Linked DNA regions of Homo sapiens: region 2 is linked to region 1. The links come from fine-mapping of genetic effects on gene expression. A gene starts in region 1. The other region holds a variant in brackets. All regions are shown on one strand. Distances are from middle to middle. Region 1 holds the start of TMLHE (trimethyllysine hydroxylase, epsilon). Region 2 has its middle 29 kb from the start of MIR1184-3.

What was found. PIP is the estimated chance that this variant, and not a neighbour inherited with it, causes the effect.
Region 2: its variant is the best candidate, but not a certain one, in a credible set for the expression of TMLHE in minor salivary gland (GTEx, PIP 0.84).

Annotation. Positions count from the first base shown.
Region 1 is chrX:155,611,689-155,614,610 of GRCh38, forward strand. TMLHE (trimethyllysine hydroxylase, epsilon) reads right to left here and starts at 1,264. Exons shown (of 8, transcript NM_018196.4): 1 at 1,104-1,264. It overlaps SPRY3 (sprouty RTK signaling antagonist 3), which reads left to right and starts at 898. Exons shown (of 3, transcript NM_001304990.2): 1 at 898-959.
Region 2 is chrX:155,427,051-155,429,972 of GRCh38, forward strand. No RefSeq gene overlaps it. Among named protein-coding and RNA genes, the nearest start is that of MIR1184-3, 29 kb to the right of the region's middle. The variant C/G (reference allele first, on the strand shown) is at 1,621.

The DNA of each region.
Region 1 (2,922 bases):
ACTTAACGTCTTCTGGTTGTTGTGAAAATTATAGTATTTTGCAAAATATATGTTCACCATTATCATTACCACCAGTTCCTTAATGAGGAGAAACCAGAAGTTGACACCAAAATGTTGATCCATAATGTTTATAGTCCTTCTTTGTCTTTATAGTTAATGTAAAATAAACTGTATGTAATTTTTACTACAGTGTGTCCTGAAAGGGCAAACCAAGCTACAAGCAACTCTAAAAGACTACTACTGTATGGGAGTGGATTATGAAAGTGTTTCTTAAATATGAGAGCTCAAGTTTTTCTTTCAGCGACTGAGTTAAAGCACGCAACTCATTTATCATGAGACTTTTGCTAGGCAGTGTACTATGTCCACTCAACACACATCATTTTAGGCAATCATCTGGTTAAAACGTTTAATAGTATGGCATTCACAAACCCATTCTTCAGAGTTGACATTCAATTAATGGTTTGAATGTCGTTTCCAGGGCAGTCAGGAGTATTTAAAGGCTTTTCCATTGTTTTCGGAAGAGAAAGAAAACTTCCTAGCCTAACTTACTTACCCAGAGCCTTGCTCCAGAGGGGGCAGACAAAGGGTAAAATCTGGGCAGAGAACATTAGTGGATATGAGAACGAAAGAAAGTGCTGCAAGATCTTGCAGACAGCTGAGTTCCACCTTCCACTCTACTGCCGAACAAAGTGAGGCAGGAAGAGGGTAGGGACTCGCTGAAAGCTAAACACCAAGTCAGTGACAGATCCAGGGCTGTAAAGTCCGACCGAGATTGAAACAATGTACACTGGGCGTCAGTCCCAACGCGAGCTTGCTCCAGCTCTTCCAGCTCTTCCTGAGCGCTAGGCCCATCCGGCCTCACGCTGATCTCCGGGCAGACTCTGTCGCGCAACTGGCACAGATCGTGACGACAACCCTGCGGCAAGGCAGGAGTGGCCTTCCTCTCCGCCAGGGTTAAGGTGAGTACCACCGCCCTTGGGCCCAGCAGCCCGGGTGAGAGCCTCCGCCGCCCACTGCGACAGGCCTGAAAGCGAGCGCCTGGGTAAACCCACCCGTAGCACCCATGGGGACACCCCTTCCCTGACCCACGGGACGGAACCCACCTGTGCTGGAGGTCGTGACTGCTAACTCCGCAGAGTGGGCAGAATTCCAAGCAAGGAGAGTCTCGGGAGGCAGCCTTTCACCCGCCTTTTGCCTTTTCACCCCCAAAACTGTCGGCCCCACGCTCCCCTCCCCCAGCCCGCTCGGGCCCAGCGGAGAGCCTGTAGGCCCCGCCCCACTCCTTCCGGCCGTGCAGGGTGGGTGCCTCTGGCGCCCGGGACTTCGCCCGGTGCTAGGGCGTCAGTCTCCCATTCGGAAGGACTGGGCCGGGGCACTCTATTCAATCGCCTTTAGTGAACATACTTGAAGCTATAGGTGCAGGGATGAGAAAAAACAGGCCCATAAAGCTATAAAACCTGGGTCCCCTGCCTGCCATTTCAGTGCTCCTCCCGAGTCCTCCCACTACGCTTCTATTTATGGTAGTTTATCCAGGTTTACTAGAAGTAAAATTCTACTACCTTTCCACCATTTTCTTGAGTTTATGGAAGTCATATACCGCTCATTACTCCCATCGATTCAGCTGAGCATCTTGAACCCAGGGTCCAGATACAGTGCTACATACAGTGAGCACTAGAAGGGAATACCCATTAGGAATGAACACCTTATGCAGGTAAAAATTTAAGAACGATACATATTACAAAGAAGGACCAAAAAGTATACTGAAATAGTATATGCAATGGAAATCCAAGGCAGATTTAAAAAATGAGAGTAAGAACAACAAAAAAAATCAAATGCATATATACTGAAAATGGGAAATTGTGCAGTATTATATTTATTCGAGATTAAAAGTGTTAATCTAATGTCAAAAAAGCAATAAAGGAATTGGTTTGTAGAAGTCAGGATCAACAAAAGAAGAAAAAGCCTCCACATCTTTGCCCTGGAATTCCTTCTGCCATGAATGCTCTTACCCGGCACTTGTTTATTTGGAAAACGGCTACTCGTTATTTTTGACTCAATTTAGATAGCACCTCCTCTGTGAAGCCTTCCCTGTCTTTCCCAGATAAGTTTGTATATTTTTTTTCCCTAGGTCCAGTATGCCCAATGGATCTCGTACAGGCCTCAAGAGTACCACTTACTCTAGATTATAATTTCTCTTTCTGCATGTCTTTGTCCTCTAATGAATAAGTAGCTTCTTGAGAGCAGAAAACTTGTGTTTTTCATATTTGTTCTCCAAGCACAGAGTCTAAAATGTCTATATATTTAATAAATATTTGTTAAAAAATTTCTAGAACCAGTGTGTAAACAAAAGGACATATCCAGAGTGTGAATGTAACATAAAGAGGAAAAACTAAGTACAATGAGAATCTAGATTTAGTCTGGCTGGTATTCATTCATGCAATAAACATTAATGAGTGCCTACTGTATGCCAGGCACTGTACTAAGATCTGGGTGTAAAATGATAAACAAAGCCCAGATATAGTCCATGCCCTTATGCCCTTATGTTTAAAGAACAAATTGGAGTTGGCCAGGCAAATGGGAAAACAAAAAAAGTTTTGGGCAGAAAGAACAGCATGATCCAATGTCCTGTAACAGGAAGATCATAACTGTAGCAATTAGAGTGAATGAGCTCACTTAAAGCTAAGCTGAAATCAACACAAAGTACTCAGAAAAGGCAACAGGTTGATAGACAATACCTGTTTGTTTGAGTCAGTAAAAGAAGCAAGTTTCCTTAATAATAGTAACCAACATTTATAAAATGTGCACTATATGCTAAACACTGGGCTAAGTGTTTGTTTTATATCAAACACTTAAGGTAGATGATATTATTTCTACTTTAAGGATAAGGCAACTGAGGCACAGATAGGTTAAGCAATTTTCACC
Region 2 (2,922 bases), 180 kb before region 1:
TGGGCAAGGACTTCATGTCTAAAACACCAAAAGCAATGGCAACAAAAGCCAAAATTGACAAATGGGATCTAATTCAACTAAAGAGCTTCTGCACAGCAAAAGAAACTAACATCAGAGTGAACAGGCAACCTACAGATGGGAGAAAATTTTTGCAATCTACTCATCTGACAAAGGGCTAATATCCAGAATCTACAAAGAACTCAAACAAATTTACAAGAAAAAAAACAAACAACCCCATCAAAAAGTGGGTGAAGGATATGAACAGACACTTCTCAAAAGAAGACATTTATGCAGCCAACAGACACATGAAAAAATGCTCTTCATCACTGGTCATCAGAGAAATGCAAATCAAAACCACAATGAGATACCGTCTCACACCAGTTAGAATGGCAATCATTAAAAAGTCAGGAAACAACAGGTGCTGGAGAGGATGTGGAGAAATAGGAACACTTTTACACTGTTGGTGGGACTGTAAACTAGTTCAACCCTTGTGGAAGTCAGTGTGGCGATTCCTCAGGGATCTAGAACTAGAAATACCATTTGACCCAGCCATCCCATTACTGGGTATACACCCAAAGGACTATAAATCATGCTGCTATCAAGACACATGCACACGTATGTTTATTGTGGCACTATTCACAATAGCAAAGACTTGGAACCAACCCAAATGTCCAATAATGCTAGACTGGATTAAGAAAATGTGGCACATATACACCATGGAATACTATGCAGCCATAAAAAATGATGAGTTCACGTCCTTTGTAGGGGCATGGATGAAATTGGAAATCATCATTCTCAGTAAACTATCGCAAGGACAAAAAACCAAACACCGCATGTTCTCACTCATAGATGGGAATTGAACAATAAGAACACATGGATACAGGAAGGGGAACATCACACTCTGGGGACTGTTGTGGGGTGGGGGAGGGGGGAGGGATAGCATTAGGAGATATACCTAATGCTAAATGACGAGTTAATGGGTGCAGCACACCAACATGGCACATGTATACATATGTAACTAACCTGCACACTGTACCCTAAAACTTAAAGTATAATAATAATAATAAATAAATAAATAAATAAATAAATAATAAAAAGTAAAAAAAAATACAAAATACCTCTGTAACCAAGAGGTATTTTGTGTCTGTGGGTTATACAGCTTAAGGTATTATGCATTGATTTAAAAATTAATAAACATGAAAACACAGATATAGCACTTAGAAATGAGTCCAAAACTATGCAGGACTACAATCCTTTTTGATAAATCCCCTCTTAATTGTAAATACCTCTGTGAAACTTGCCTGGTCTACACTTATAAGACACAAGAAGCTACTTATATGTCTCAGGACATGGGTCTGGTCCAAATACTCAACTATTCACAGATATCAGATACCAGTTTTGGTCCTGGCACTCATCCATGAGTTTCTTATGAAGAGAAGAGAAGAGAAGAGAAGAGGAGATTACGAAATAAAAATGTGATGTACACCTTAATGTGTTATCATTTCCATCAATGAATTTTACAACTTTTCAATAAAATGTTTCTTTTTACTCTGATATCTAGAAGTTCTATTCAATGAACACTGAAAAGATATAGACAGATTCATGATAGCTAGATAGATA[C/G]ATTAGACATGAAAAATTAAAACCGTGAATTATAGCTCTGTCATTTACTTGCTCTATGACTATTAAAAAATTATATCCACAAAATTTTATTTCTTTATGTTTCATGGAGATAGTAATTCCCAGCACAAGTTAAGCAAAAAACTATGTTCAAATTCAATTACTACAGAAATCAAAGCTTTTACTATATGGACAAGCTGAGTACTCTGGCTCTGGAAATGATTAGGAATAACACACAGGCCAATAATATTTGTGGCTCATTAAAATGGGAGAGGGCACACTGAATGGCAAGAAGAAAATCAAGAGACATGGAACCATGGAAGCCAAGGGAATTGAGTGTTTAAAAAAAGGTAGACTGGTAGGCTGTGTCAAATAATCCTAAGGAGTTAGATCAGATAAAGACATCAAAGTGTCCATCAGATTTAACAACATGGACATCATTAATGACCTCAGTGAAGCTGGTGGTGTCAGAAATAAGACTGAGTGAATTTCTATTGAGAAAGTAAAGATGGAGAGTGTGTTTTTTTAAACAGAATAAGACAAAATAAAGGCCAGTCAGAAAGCTATATATTTAGTTTCTATTACAGACTGATCTACCAGCTTTCCAACTGGTAGATCCCTTAGTCCAGCTCCCATCTAGGTCATTAATGGCCTCTGTCACTTACTAGCTATGGAGCTATAGAAGAATCAGTTCACCCACCTGATTCTGTTTCCTCATCCTTAAAATGGTTTAAAAAATAGTAACTACTTCATAGAGTTATTATGTAGATTAATGGCTAGAATGCTTATGCTGTGCCAAGCAACATACCTGGCACATAGTAGCTGTTTAATAAACATCAGCTAGTATTATAAGAAAGGAAAGAAATTGGCCAAATTAAGATCATGTAACTAAGATCAAAATTCTCCTGATCCAAATGGTGTAGGAAAACCATCTAGGACTAATTTCTTTATTTTTTATTTTATTTACCTTGTCCTGGTAGTTACATATCCAATCTGTTCCTTTCTCAGATAAAATCAGTGTGTTTTACTTTTGAATGTAGAGTTATCGATAACCTTACTCTCTGAGAAGTTGCATCTTACCTGTCTAGTTGTGACTGACACACAGTTGGCATTTTCACTGGTCCTACCAATTGGAGTTGGGCAAAAGTTTTCCTTGGAGACTTTATGACCATAAAAAGTGGAAGTGATTTCTGCCTTCATTTCGTTATGTACCTAGTAGTCATTCAGGAGCAGGTTGTTCAGTTTCCATGTAGTTGAGCGGTTTTGAGTGAGTTTCTTAATCCTGAATTCTAGTTTGATTGCACT